2 linked regions of the Homo sapiens genome follow. The protein of the gene in region 2 binds, or shares a complex with, the protein of the main gene of each other region. Each region holds a gene or a part of one and is shown on either strand. Other genes may lie near its edges. A codon is read from its position in the direction of its gene.

Evidence for each region. The genes of interacting proteins can lie anywhere in the genome.
Region 1: the proteins of ZBTB16 (region 2) and IRF2BP2 are in contact, whole or in part, in a crystal structure (PDB 8YTH), measured with the Homo sapiens proteins. Residues at the interface, in NP_001018011.1 of Homo sapiens: Arg285, Ser287, Val288, Ile289, Thr290, Ser291; in NP_892017.2 of Homo sapiens: Thr516 (codon at 177), His517 (codon at 174), Phe518 (codon at 171), Val519 (codon at 168), Gln520 (codon at 165), Pro522 (codon at 159), Phe531 (codon at 132), Leu557 (codon at 54), Trp564 (codon at 33), Ala565 (codon at 30), Phe566 (codon at 27), Met567 (codon at 24), Glu570 (codon at 15), Thr573 (codon at 6), Ile574 (codon at 3).

The regions. Positions count from the first base shown.
Region 1 is NC_000001.11:234,607,179-234,614,931, forward strand, and holds the start of IRF2BP2 (interferon regulatory factor 2-binding protein 2), read right to left. Parts: upstream 3,001-7,753; 5' UTR 2,317-3,000; coding exon 1,269-2,316; intron 675-1,268; coding exon 1-674. UniProt on the Homo sapiens protein: Acts as a transcriptional corepressor in a IRF2-dependent manner; this repression is not mediated by histone deacetylase activities. Represses the NFAT1-dependent transactivation of NFAT-responsive promoters.
Region 2 is NC_000011.10:114,062,657-114,069,730, reverse strand, and holds part of ZBTB16 (zinc finger and BTB domain-containing protein 16), read right to left. Parts: intron 6,521-7,074; 5' UTR 6,431-6,520; coding exon 5,163-6,430; intron 1-5,162. UniProt on the Homo sapiens protein: Acts as a transcriptional repressor. Transcriptional repression may be mediated through recruitment of histone deacetylases to target promoters. May play a role in myeloid maturation and in the development and/or maintenance of other differentiated tissues.

The sequences.
Region 1 (7,753 bases), on a different chromosome or scaffold from region 2:
GATGGTTGCAATTTCCCCTTGCATAAAGGCCCAGGGGACATTGGAGCCCACAAGAGGGCATTTTTCCCCACTGGGACAATAGACCTCTCCACTAGCTCCCTGCTGTTTGATGCTTTGTCTGGAGCAAGGGAAGCAGAACTTGTGCGAAGGGACGGACGGGCACTGCACAAAATGGGTGTCCTCCAGCCGCTCGTGGCAGAGGGTGCAGCACAGCGGGGCACTGGTTGCCAGAGAGGAGTCCGGGAGGCTGGCAGGGTGCACTGGCTCCAGTCCTCCTGTGTTGCCTGCTCCCTGGCCCCCCACCTCTCTGGGGCCCAGCCTTCTTTGGTTCATAGAGGACGGAGAGGGCGGACTGTTGCTATTCCTCCTGGTAGTGGAGTGAACCTGGTTGGCATCTTTTGAGGCATGACTGCCCCCTGCATTGTCTGCTACTAAGATCAGGGCTGCCATGGGGGACTGGCCATTCTGGGCCGCTTCAGGCGGTGTGGTCCGGTTGGAATGAGGTGAGGCAGTGGGTGGTGGCGGAGACACAAAAGAGGATGTAGGAGTCATGGGGATCTTGAGCCCCTCTGTGGATGTGGACAGCCACGGCTGGGCCTCTCCGTTGATCTTAGGGGGCCCGACTTCACCTTCTGGTTCTGGAGAGGGCTTCCTTTTCCTTGCTGTTCTTGCAACTGGAAACACAAAGAAATAAAAGGAAAAAGGTAACATAAGTGGCGGTGCACTGAAAGAGATCATTCTCTTCCTAACCCGAAACAAAAGTCGTTACAGAATTCCTCCTCTCTAAAAGCACAGACAGAAAATACTCATATACGAGTTTCAGGTGCACATGCAACTTAAAACCTTCAGGCGTACGGGATTCTGAGGCAGCAGACTGATTTAAAATGGAGCCACTGAAAATGACACGCTTGTAACTGCCTGTTTGTACACATGCACAAAAGTACCCTCGTTTGCACTCAACATGTGACTGCTAATGTCCCCCAATAGGTTAAAAGGTGACTGGTGCCCTCATGCTCCCATCCAAGAATGTGCTGGGAAAGGAAAACCCCGTGTCAGAGCGTATCAGCCCAGTCTGACTCATCTCTGTTATGCTGCTTCAGCACATGAACACGTTGCCACCAAGCACTGGTTCCGCCTCAGGCAGATCAGGAAGTGGGGTGTTTGTTGTTTCTGGGCTGGGGTAAAATGGTGAATCCAAAGAACCACCCTTCCTCTGCTCTCCGTCCCCTTTTCTCCCCTAGACCCCCTCACTTCACAGCCGCCCCTACCTGCTTTAGACCCGTTGGCCCCGTTGGCCTCGAAACCCAACAACCTGCCTGCAGTCAGGGCCGGCTCCTTCTTAAACTTGCTCTCGAAGGGCCCCGAGTGGCCGTGCTGGTGCAGCGCCAGCAGCGTGTCGCGCACGGTCTTGGGCCTGTTGACCCAGTCCTGCTCTCCAGACCCGCGGCTCTTGCCCGCACCTTCCGCGCTCAGCTCGGCGGCCCCGGCCGCGGTGGACAGGCTGTCGGCCGGGCCCCGGTGCGCAGGCGGCGGCGGTTGTTTCTCCTTGGCTGCCGCCTCACGCTGCTCGTGCTCCACGGCAGCGCTGCTCGACACGGATGCCGGCCGCTTGTGGGCGCCCAGATCGGTGGGCTGCGCGGAGCCCAGGCTGGCGGCCGCGGTTCCGGACACCGCGGCTAAGGAGGCGGCAGCGCGGCCGCCGAGGCCGAGCGCGGTGGGCAGCGGCGTGGCCGAGCCGTTCATGAGCGGCACCAGGGTGGGCGGCACCGCGTGGCCGCGCCGCGGGTTCGGGCTCTGGCGATTCAGCTCGGGCGGCTCCTCTAGCTTGGAGAAGCCGTTGGGCACCAGGATGCCGTTCACGGGCGGCGGCTGCGGCGTCGGCGGCTGGGCCAGGCTCGCTGCCGGGCGGCTGCTGCCGAAGTCAGAGCCGAGGCGCGGGGGCCTCTCGGCCGCGGCCGCCAACGGGTAGCGCTCCAAGGCCTGCGGCGCGCGCGGGGCCGCCTCGGGGCCGCCGTGGCCAAGCTGCTGCTGCTGCTGCAAAAGGATGTCCTTGGCGGAGAGCGGCGGCGGCTTGGCGGCGGCCGAGGCCGCGGCGCCGGGTGGGGAGCGACCCTCCGGGAAGCAGCCGTGCGCCCGCTTGAGCTGCCGCGCCGTCTCGATGACGAACTCGACGCGGTCGGCGCCCTCGTAGTTGACGCAGCCGCGGCAGACGGGTTCGGTGAAGTCCCAGATCATGGCCCAGGGCATGCGGGGCAGGTCACACAGGTAGCACGACTGCCGCCGGGACGCGGCCGCCACCGCCACCGCCGCGGCCATGTCCGAGGAGCCCGCGACGCCGGAGGAGGAGGCGGAGGAGGAGGAGGGGGCGCCGCCGCCGCCCCCCACCGGCACCACGCGCGCCCTCCTCCCCCCCCAACCCCGCGTCTCCCCCACCAGCGGCGGCGGCGGCCGCAAAGGCGGCGGCGGCGGCGGCAAAGCCCGCGAAGGCTCGGCGCCCGCGCAGCGCCCCCGGTGCACGAGGGGCGGCGGGCGCGAGGTGAGGGGCTGCAGCCGCGGCAGCAGTTCCCCCCGGCCGGCCCGGGCACGGGCGGGCGGCGCGGCGCGGCGGGGCGGCGGGCGCGGCGGTGGGGGCTCGGCCGGAGCCGCGGCGGGCCTCCAGACCGGGGCGAAGACGGGCCGCGCGGGCGCGGGGGAGCGCAGCAGGTCGCGGCGGCGGCCGGCACGGAGTGCGGGGCGGGGGGCGGGGAGGCCGGGGGGGCAGGGGGCGGGGGGCGGCCGCCGGGGCAGGCTCAGCCCGAGCGGCGGGGCATGCCGCGCCGGGGTGGCGGCGGCCGGGCGGCGTGGAGCTCGGGCGCGGCGCGGGCCCCGGGTCGCTCCGCCGCTCTCTCACAGCTCCTGGCGTCGCCGCTCTCCAGCGCCAGCGTCAGCGGCCAGCCCGCCTCAGCTCCGCCGCCGCCACCGTCGCTGCTGCTGCTGCCGCCGCGACCGCTCCACTTCTACAGACTTGATTCTTCGACAGTCTCGCACGGCGCCTGCGCGGGCCCCCTCCCCTCGTGCGCGTGCCCGCCCTCCCGCGCGCGCGCTCCCCCTCCCCCCGCGCGCCGAAGGAGCGCTGCCGGGAGAGCCGGCTACGCGGCGCCCGCCCGCCCGCGGGGCAGCGCAGCAGCGCAGCGCCGGTGTTCCCTTCGGAACACCGCGCAAAGTGATCGAGTGCTTTTCCTCCACTTTCCCTCACTTCGCGCCCCACCCGGCTGTCCCGACCACCCTCAGGATGTTTTCCTCTGGTGTGCCTCTGGGCCAAATCGTGCTAAAAATCATTTTTTTTCTTTTATGCAAGGACACTTTGTCACTTGGTTTCCGTCAGTCTCCTGAGAATGGGGAATTTAGGTCTAGCGTGGTTCACAGTTCTGGTTTTTTAGGAGTTATACTTGAAAGCTCAATGTCGGACACATAGCATGAAATCCGTCACTGGTGCTTTGCATTTGTCTTGGAAAGGACATACGCCCCGCCTGTCCCTTTTACTAACTAGGGAGACTGTGAATATTCCCAAGCCCAGCACCACGTGCACACGCCGCCAGCTGGCTCGCGCGTTTTCCACGGAGCCCTCTGGAGGGGAGGGAGCGCGGTTCGGACTAGCCTCTCCCGAACACCAAGTGCCGCTCTTAGCCCCGTCCAGCCCGCCCTGTTCATCGGGGGCCTCGCCGCGCCAGTCGCCCCGGCTGCCTTATGTAGGTATGCGCGGCGGGCGCGTGACGTGGGCGCGGGGCCGTGGGCGGCCGCCGCCGCGAGTGCGCACGCTCCGCGCAGACGTGCCTCGGCGCCGCTGGCACTAGGGCCTCGTGGAACGAATGCACATTCCAGGGATCCGGGGTCTACGGCCAGCGCGGCCGCGTCACAGCGCAGGCTCCACCCCCTTCGGCGAGTCTGGGCGTCGAGGCGCCGCCCCCGGGCCCGAACTTGGACTCGAGGTGGCGGGAGGCGAGGGCGCGAGTGGGGGGGGGGGGGGTCCTGCTCGCCTCCGCGAGGTTCCCGAGGGCCGTGGGGGCGACCGGCTGGCTGGCTGGCCCGCCGTCCCGCAGGGCGGGCCGCCGACGGAGGCGGACTTTTGCCCTATATGCCACCCAGGCCGGGATGAGCCCGGCCTGCAGGTCTGCCACCGTTGGCAGCCTCAGACTCAGCCCAGACTGAATTGAATGTTTGAGTTTCGCACTTTTATCGGGAGGAGGAGCTAGTGTGTGTTATGGTAAATCACTTTGGGCTGGTCGTTAGTCTCCCTAATACACGTAGGCTTAGTCGCTCTTCAATTGGGACTTTTACACTTAAGCTCTTTAAGGGCGGCCTCTGGAGCTGCTTTTGTTGGGAACACAGGCCCACAACTCTCCCTTGAGACTGGAATGAGCTGGTTAAGTGTGGGAAGAACAGGGTACTAATTATATTATCTTTCCTACAACTGGATTGGTAGGTGGAGAGAAAAAAAAAATCATGCTGACGTTTCTCTCTAGTCGTTGCTATTGAAAATACCAGGTTGCTTCAAAGGATTAACCACAAGGAAGAGGAAAAACACCCTTAGAGAAACAGTGGAGGGAGCTGCTTAAAACACATGAAAAAACCTGTTCGAAAATGGCACAGAAAACGTAATGTCAGACCTAAATGTTTTTACAGGCTAACCTTGAATGTCTTTTGGGGATTTCCATAGAAGGTGCGCCTGTTTTAAAGGTCTCTGCATCTGTTCCTGGATCTTGCCCTGCAATTGCAATCCTGCCTCACCCTCTCCAAGCTGGGAGAATGGGGCCTGTCCAGATCCTTCCCGGGAGTAGCTGGTGCCAGCGGGTTTGGTCACTCCCAGGCCCTGCTGTTGCACACCGCTTTCAAGACCTGTCCCTTTGGTCACCCTCCTCAGAGACCCTGTGACACTCATTCCAGTACATGCCTTCACCCACTGCGTCACTGCCCAAAGGGGATGAAGTCCAGTCCTTGTGCTGCAGAGAAATGAACCAACTCATCGCCCCCAAGAGACGGCCCCACTAAGCATTGACTGAAACATACTAAAAGAAAACACAACTCACCATTAGAGTTGTGGCCTAATTATACTCATTTCTCTGCAAGCTGGTACTGTAATGGCCTCAAGGGGAGAGCCTGCCACTCCATCCTAAAATAGAATTAGAGATAGAAATTCTGCCACGATACTAAGATCTTTGCAAAACGGAGCTTTTCTTCTCCAAAGGAAGAGCATTTCCTTCTTATTTTACACTGCCAGTTTCATGTCGAAACTGAGTTGTTGTAACTTCCCTAATGAAATGCCCGATGGAAAATGGAAGGGCTATTTTAGTTCTGGGCTCGATCCGGAATCAAGGGGGTTAAGGCTGGATTCAGGGCAGCAATTCCTTATATTGTATCAGAAGTCTTTCATGCAGCCTGGCCTTTCATGTAGCTCTGAAGCAGCTTTATCGATGTATGCTAAGTAAACATAGCTTTGTTTTTGTCTTCCACCCACCGCTCCCTCCCGGCACAGACTGGAGTTGGATCCCATCCAAAGCGGCTGCTGCAGCAGTTACAGCCGCCTCCTCCACACACAGGAGCAGGGTTTCTAGGGTGAGGCAATGCGTCTGCAATTCGCAGAGACAAGGCAGGAATTGTAATTGTAGTTCATCATGTGATGACTTATGAAAGAGGAAGTTGGTATGTTTTAGTCACGTAGACTCTGCCCTCTTGCTTGAGGCACCAGGTCCTCTCAAAAGAGAATTATGATCATCTTTGCCACCCAGAGTCAAGGTTACCGGGTTGGCTGCAGTGTGCTCCTGCACATTCATATACGGACAGGCAGGCAGATGCTGGGCCAAGTGTCGGCGACGCAGCGGGATGAGGCTGGCTTTTCACCAGAACACTAAAATGTTGCAATTTGTCTTAAGGACTAAAGGAAATATTCTATGGAGAACACTCCTGCTGAGACTAGACAAACCAACAGTCCTTTCCAGCTCTAATTTCTGAGAGTTGTTTTTTTTTTTAAATAAAAATCACAGTGTAGGAGTAAAAGGAAAGCCATTCAGTATGACACTATCAGAAAAGCAGGAATAAGGAAGTGGCTTGGAAGGCAAACCTAAGAGAGCAGTTGTAAGCGATAGCTCAATGGGTAGAACTAATGTGACCTTCCGACACTGAGATTGAAACGGGCTTCTACTGCGTGAACGTTAAACATCTAAAATCTGAATCTGGTTTCCAGAGCTTACTCCAGTCAAGCAGCTATTAACACACGGAAGCCCTGAACTGACAGTCTATAGAGCAGTGTAAAGAAACGGTTCCTACAAGAGTACCTTATTGGAACTTTGCCCCCAGGTTATGCAGCTGCAAGAGGGGTGCAACCCCATTCCCCCAGCAGCTTGTGGGTGCTGTCCAGGAGATAGATGGTATTCCTAGGAACTGCTGAGTTCGTGGCTTTCACCCTCTATCCAGAGGTGGAATCACAGCCTTCATTCTTTAGAGTGCAGTTTCCTTAAATAGCATGATGTTGCAACCATGCTAAAGCTTCTTAAACTCTGATCTTGGCGTATTTGAAGAAGAGAAAAAATGCAGCCACATTTCATCTGGATTTCTGTGGACATCATTGCGGGTTTCTTCAGCTTTGGCAAAAGTGTCGTAAGGTTTGAAGAGCACACGTGATATTCAGGGCTTTTCCAATTTTTTAAATAAGTTATATATATTTGAACACATTTGTTTATATGAATATATCTACACATACTATGGAGCACCATGACATAAATGAACCTTCTGTAATTGATATGAGAGTCTTCCTTCTTAGTAACAGCATTTTATGAGACAATCTTACTGTTTTTCAAATTGCAAATATTCTTTTTTAGAAATACTTTCCCTCTGTTTGACCTCTCTCTATAGCCTACCTCCCCTGTGCACAGAGCATACAGATATTAAAGAGACTTTTGCATGTGGAGGAGATAAACTCTCTGTGGAGGGTCTAAGAATCAAGCCAGATAAAATCACAGGAGCTCTTAATCATCCACATATTGTACACAGAAGCTGTTAGTCGGCAGCCTATATGTCAACGTATGTATAGGTCCCTATTTAGAGCAAAATTTGGGATCTTGATGAAGGTTAAATACTCACTGTGTCAGAATTTAAAGAGCTAAGTGAGAAACAGACAAAATAGACAAAGGAGAGATTGAGGTCACACACTTGCTCAGTCTGCAAGGAAATTTGTAGAACTGGAAGGGATTCAACAGCCATTTGATGCCAGTAAACCTCCTATTGACTTTTTGGAAAAAGCAGGATGAAATGCACTTTTCTGGAATATCTGGATGTGGGTTTAACTTAGAATATTTAAAACACTCACTGAAGCCCTTTGAAAGATATCAGTAGGAAGATGTTGACAAAATAATGAATTAACTTCACAGATAATGTTTGAAAATATAAAAATGGTAAATTTTCCCTTCTTAGCTTTTCTATTAAAAAATGTACATTTCCTACATACACATTCCATAGCATAAGAACTGAAAAAGTCAAATAATGTAATAATTCTAAAACGTTAAAGAACAGTACGATGGCATGGTATTTGCTGTATCTTTCACATGAACATTTTAAAAAGATATTTCAAGGATAAATTCTATTCTCTTGTCATCCTTTTCAGAAACTAAAAACCTGACTTACCTAAAGTAACATGAAAAGTGAGTGTCAGAGGCCAGACGCGGTGGCTCACGCCTGTAATCCCAGCACTTTGGGAGGCCACAGTGGGTGGATCAGGAGG
Region 2 (7,074 bases):
GCATACCCTTTTCCAAACAGAATTTAGTTTGACATCAGAGGTTCTGGACGGGATGATGAAAGAAAACCAAGAGTCTCAGGAAACCTCAAAAATCCCAAAAGTAGCCTAAACCAAGGTCAACACCTGTTGGCCTTCTACATGATCAACCACTAAAAACAGAGCAGCTGACCATCTGAGAGAGACCAAGGCCAAGGGCCAGGCAGAACTCTGATATCTTAGCCACAAAGCTCATGCACCGTACAGCTGGCTCCACAAAGCCTCTGGGAAGGGCTGTACACACGGATCCAGAAAGCTGGCTCAGACATTCCCTGTGGTTCCTGAGAATCCCTTCAAGAACCAGGCAATAGGCCGGGCGTGGTGGCTCACACCTGTAATCCCAGCACTTTGGGAGGCCGAGGCAGGTGGATCACGAGTTCAGGAGATCGAGACCATACTGGCTAACACGGTGAAACCCTGTCTCTACTAAAAATACAAAAAATTAGCCGGGCGTGGTGGCGGGTGCCTGTAGTCCCAACTACTTGGGAGGCTGAGGCAGGAGAATAGCGTGAACCTGGGAGGCAGAGCTTGCAGTGAGCTGAGATCGCGCCACTGCACTCCAGCCTGGGAGACAGAGCGAGACTCCATCTCCAAAAACAAAAAGGAACCAGGCAAGAGTTGCGACGGTGTCTGTGCAGGACATCCACTGCAGCTGACCTAAGTGCTTGTCTGTATAAGATCCAGAAACCAGACCCCATTGTGCCTCTGCAGCACTAAATTCAGAAACACATAAAGACCAAGCTGCGTGAGCCATGGGAGACTAGGGACTATAAATGAGGACTATGTTCACACTTAAGTCTATAGAACTATACTGTTCCCTGCAATCTTATCGCATATGTACGTAACTCTGAGAATGATCAGGTGCTCCTGGCCTGGATGAGCTGGTTCCTAGACCATTTCCAGAGAAGCCTACATGCAGAACTGCTCCAGCCTTTTGGAATAAGAAAGGGAGGGCCCAGTGTTCCAGAATCCTGAGATGATCTTCCCCTCCCTCAGGCATTATCCTCTGTAATGTGGATGCACTGGTGAAGATTTGGGGGCCCAAAGCTTGCTCCTTCATCTGCCTGCAGAATACTGCTTATCTATCAGATCTTCCCACTGTTCTGACTTCCTTCTGGTTTGTTTAGGTAAGTCAGTCCCATTGGATGCCTTTGTCTGGTCTTCCCACCCATCCATGACTACACTTGACACTGCATCCCTTTTACAGCACGTCATTCCTGCAGTGGACGGCTTGTACATCTTGCTGTCCGCTGCAGGAAACAGGCTCTACAACTCCACTAAGTTTGATTCTCACTATCTGTTGAGCCAACAGCTTACCCTTCACTCCACACCAGCTTGGGATCAAATCATGGGGAAACTTACCGATGACATTCCATAATAAACTCCCTGCCTTCCTGCCTCACTTACCAGCAATCCGCCTTCATTTCCTCTCCATTCCCTTCTGCCCCCCCACCCCAAGAAGAAATGCAAGAAGGACTGCTGGGTATCTAGTCTTTACCAACACTCAGGCCTATTGACTTAAAAATAAAATAAAATAAACCCTGTAGCCTGTTATTTTATCACTGATATATTTCCAGTGAATGCCATGGCTTCCTGGCCTCAAAATCTCCCCTTCTGATTTTTTTTTTTTTTTTGTCTTGGCTTTTTGTTTGTACTGGTTATAGGGCTGTTGTTTTTTTTTTTCCACCATAGCATTTCTCAGACTGCTGATGGGTTGGGGGGAGACAGAGAACAGTAGAAAAAAGGGAATAGCACATTAATCCTGGAGTTTTGAGGGTGAGGGGGAGAAAAAAAGCCTTCTACAAAGTACATCTAGCTGGGACCCGAGGGGCTGTTGATCTGAGTGAGGGCTGAGCACACGCAGGATTATTTTCTCCCCTTTCTGATTTCTTTAGACCCCCAAGCTTCCCATCAAAGGCACTGCCCCTGGCTCTAACTTCTTGGGCTGCAGCTGCTGACTTTCCACCCTCAGTCAAAAGCACATTCTCGGCCCAGCAGGGTGGCACACACCTATAATCCCAGCACTATGGGAGGCCGAGACAGGTGGATCACTTAAGGCCAGGAGTTCCAGGCCAGCCTGACCAACATGGTGAAACCCCATCTCTACTAAAAATACAAAAATTAGTCGGGCATGGTGGTACACATCTGTAGTCCCAGCTGCTCAGGAGGCTGAGGCAGGAGAATCACTTGAACCCGGGAAGTAGAGGTTGCAGTGAGCCAAGATCATGCCACTGCACTGCAGCCTGGGCGACAGAGTAAGACTCTGCCTCAACAACAACAACAACAACAAAAGCACATTCTTCCTGTCAGCAGCCCACATGTGACACGGAGGATTCCAGGGCCAGTGTCTTGCTGTCATATGCTCACAAGGACAGGGACATTCTCTGCACCACCTCACAGTCAACACAACCCTCATGGAGGGTGGCACTGTGGACACTACACACTAGAACTCAGAGCCAATGAGGACCATGCAGAGATGAGGCCTAAACAACACAAGGGACAGATGGTCAGTTCTCCACCGCTGCGGTGACTATGTGCCCATCACAGCTCTAGTGATTTCTGGATCTTACTTCATTAATTCAGCACCAACCCTGTTGACCGTCTCCATTTTAAGAAGTGAGTGAAGGCCGGGCGGGGTGGCTCACAGCTGTAATCCCAGCACTTTGGGAGGCCGAGGTGGATGGATCGCAAGGTCAAGAGATCGAGACCATTCTGGCCAACATGGTGAAACCCTGTCTCTACTAAAAATACAAAAAATTAGCTGGGCGGGGTGACAGGTGCCTGTAGTCCCAGCTACTCAGGAGGCTGAGGCAGGAGAATCGCTTGAACCCGGGAGGTGGAGACTGCAGTGAGCTGAGATCACGCCATTGCACTCCAGCCCGGTGACAGAGCGAGACTCCGTCTCAAAAAAAAAAAAAAAAAAAAATGTAGTGAGTGAAACAAGGCCCAGAAAGGTTAAATAAGTATCACAGGCTCTCACCACTAAATATGGCCAATTCCAATACCCAGGCTCTTTCGAATATAACATGGCCAACTCTCCCTCTCTCCCCAGAGGAATGAGGGTCTTGCTGAAGGGGAACTTGGAAGTCTCAGGAGAGTGGTATCTTTTGTGGCCCTCTCGGGTAAAGAAAAGCAACCAGGAACCAGGACCTGATGAGAGCCAGAAAAACAATTACTTCCCACCATACCCAGTTCTCATAGCACACAGCCGAAATAATTCACATCCGGAAAGATGATACATCTATCTGGTCAACTTTGGGGAGCGGGTTTCCTCTTTAGGAAAGTTTGAGCAAAAACAAACACAACCTCAGTCTATTTCTGAGCGGTACAAGCATCAAGAAGACACACCTTAGTGGCGGTTATTTTTCGCACCCACTGGAAAAAGTCGGCTACGTTTAGCTCTGCCACACTTTCCACAAGTTAAGCCTCTGAGCTGTCGAGGAGGCAGGGTCAGAGCAGATTCCGGCTAGGGGTGATGAGATCAACTTCCAGATATCCCCACCCCAACCCCTCTCACTCACATCCCCCGTACCTGAACGAGCAACAGGGGAATGGGGGTGAAGGGGGAGGAAGTGGAGAATCCACCCAAGATCAGCAAAACAGCAGACCACAGGGTATGCAGCCAAATGCTGTCGTCAATGACAACAGAAAGCTGGATTTCTTGACTCCATTCATCTGACCCAGAAACTAGAGGATAAAATGATGGGCACGTGGTTTATGACAGAAGCAAGGAAAAAAAAAACAAACTCGCTACTTATCCCCCCTGTTATTTACTCCACTTCCTATAAGCAATCTTCAAAACGCTCTGTTCCATAGACATGATCCTCTTCAAGTCTAAGTGACTCCAAGAGGCAGCAAAGTACCAGGGGGTAAGGACCTAAATTTGAATCCAGCTCTGCCTCTTACTATCTATGTGACCCTAGAAAAGAGACTTGACATCTGAGCCTTAGTATTGTTCCATGTAAAAGAAGGACATTACCAGCTGGACACGGTGGCTCATACCTGTAATCCAGCACTTTGGGAGGCCGAAGCAGGCCGATCACCTGAGGTCGGGAGTTCGAGACCATCCTGACCAACACGGTGAAAGCCCGTCTCTACTAAAAATTCAAAATTAGCCAGGTATGGTGGTGCGTGCCTGTAATCCGAGCTACTCGGGAGGCTGAGGCAGGAGAATCACCTTAACCCGGGATGCAGAGGTTGCGGTGAGCAGAGATCACACCATTGCACTCCAGCCTGGGCAAGGAGAGCGAAACTTCACATCCAAAAAAAAAAGAAGGACATTACCTATCTCAAAGGGCTGTTGTAATGAAAATGCAACTCATGGAAAGTGCTTAGTACTGAACCAAACATGTCATAAGAGCTCAATGAATGGTTATTTCATAGAGAAGGAAACGGAAGCCGGAGGGAAGCCAATGCTAGCCTGAAGCGGCATTTAGTTCAGTGTGAGCAGAGATGGGATAAGAATGAGACTTCACAGGCTGCAAGACCAAGACTCTTATACCCATCCTTTCCCCTTGCATTTAAATCAATTCCCCCTAAATGCATGTGCAGGATCAGAGAATGAGAAGGGAGACAGAGCAAGGAGATTAACTTTCACCAGGAATAAGGTTCAGAACCTGCAGCTGCTCTTGTGGCTTAAGCAGCCCCCAGACCCTCCCATTCTCCCAAGCTGCAGAAAGGGACAGGCTGTCTTCACAGGGACCACTGCATGGGAACCCGAGGACCTGAAACCTAGTAACATGGTCAGATGCAGGGCCCAAGAGACCCTCATCCCACTCCTTTTCTCCTTCTCTCCATTTTATCAGTCACTCCAAGCAAAGGAGAACAGACCAAACAGCCGAAAAAACAAACAGGGGCCCAAAAGCAAAAAACAAAGGGAAGGGCCTATTAAGAAGCTGCGCCCATGAGTGTCCCCTGGTGCTTTTTGGAAAGATCCTAGGCCCCCTCACTACACTTTAAAAAACCTGCTCCCCTCCCCGCCAGAACTTTAGAAGAAGTGTTCTGGTTTTTTCACAAATTGCCAAGACAGGGGAGCCAGGCCCCTAACTTGGGAGCAGCCAGGGTGTGAAGGAGGGGTGTGAGGGCCTCAAGTCCTACATCAGGTGCGGGGCTGGAGCGGGGCCTACCTGTGCTGCTCCACAGCCTCGTTATCAGGAAGCTCGACCCCACACACGCTGCACTGCTCTCCGATGGTCCGGCTCTCTGACTTCATGCCCACAGCCAGCTCCCCCAGCTTGCTGAACAGCTCCCTCTGGATGAAGCCCTGGGGCAGCAGCCCCCCATAGGTGCTGAAGTCCATGGAGACAGCCAGGGCAGGCTGCACGTGGAGGCCAGAGGTCACGGAAGACGGCATGCTCAATACAGCGTCAGCCTTGTGGTTGGGCAACACGGAGTAGATGCCCAGATGCTTCTCAGGCGGGGGTGCTGGGTGCTCAGGTCGGCCAGTGGGGGCCTGGCCAGCCTCAGCTGGGGGTGGCACCTGCTCGGCACTCTCCTCTCGCCCATAGTGTAGCTCCCTAGCACTGGTGATGACGCTGCTTCGAGTCGGGGTCCCAGGCCCCTCTTTGCCTCTTTCCTCAACCTTGTCCCCCATCCCTCCTGAGATGCTGGACTCGGCTGCCCCAGGGCTGTCCTGGCTGGGCACCTCATCCACCTGCATCATCTCCGTCTTCACCTCAGCCACCCCAGGGTGCCGCCCACCCCCAGCCAGAGTTGGCTCCTCGGGCCCTGCAGGTGGCTGAAGAGTTCCCTGCAGGAGAGACTGTCCTATGGTCATCAAACTGTCCACTGCAGCCTTGGTGGGACTCATGGCTGAAAGACCAAATGAAGTGGAGACTGAAGGGCTCTGGTCCACCATGGGCCCAGGGAGGCTCTGTCCAGCCACACTGGCATACCCACTCTCCTCGCTGGAATGCTTCGAGATGAAGATGTTCTTGAGGTACCGAGCCTTGCGGTCCTCTTCTTCCTCGGCCCCGCCATCGGCCATGGTGGCCTCCGTGTCATTGTCGTCTGAGGCCTGGATGGTCTCCAGCATCTTCAGGCACTGTTCCTCCAGGTACTCGATCTCCAGGATCTCGGCCGCATACAGCAGGTCATCCAGGTCCTCCGCCTTGGCTTGCAGCGTGGCTGTATATGCATACTCCAGAATCTGCTGGAAGGTCTTTGGCGAGAGGAAGTCCAAAGTATAGTGTTGACTATTGCGGTGGAAGAGGATCTCAAACATCTTGCTGGTGCAGGCCAGCACCGTCCGGTGGGCGTGGAACTCCTGGCTGTCCACCATGATGACCACATCGCACAAAGTCCCGGCCAGCCGCATCTGGTTGGCCTTGCACAGTAGCCCCGTGGGGTGGCTAGGGTTCTGCAGCTGGATCATGCCCATTTTTGTCAGATCCATGGTGCTCCCCTCGGCTCAGGCATGAGGCTTTCTTTCCTTCTGGGCTCTGCGTGGCGGGGCTGGGTGGGCTTCCTGGGCCAATAGAGGAGGCTAGGAGAAAGAAGAGGGGAAGAAGCAAAAGAGATGAGAGAACAAAAGACAAATTCATCAGTGTCCCTAAAAGTAAGAATTCAACCACTACAACATGCCCCCTCCTCCCTGTTGCCAAGCCCTTAGCAAGAGGATCTTAGAGATTTTAATTGAAGTAGCTTCCTAGAAATCTACAAATCTGCCTTTCAAGCCAGGGATGCTGAGAGTAAAAAGAAGGTTCTGCCACAGCAGATGCCTAATTCACTACTCTATGACATCTGTTAGATGAAGTGAAATGAAAATTGTAGTGAAGTCCTATAAGTCCTCAGCTTTCTCTGTGTCTGAGAGTAGGGGCTCCCTAGGCAAGGCCAACATTCATTATGATGAAGTGCACTTACTTAAAATTAGCAAGACTTTAGCCCCTTCCTTGTCAGCTTCACGCCAGCCCCCTGGATGTCAAGCCTTATCTTTAAACAGTTTTTCCAAACTCTGCCTCACTACAGGAGCCCCAGAAGCAGAGTCAAACTCATTGGAGGCCAGGAGCCTGTAGCCATGGCCACAGAAATCTATGGACA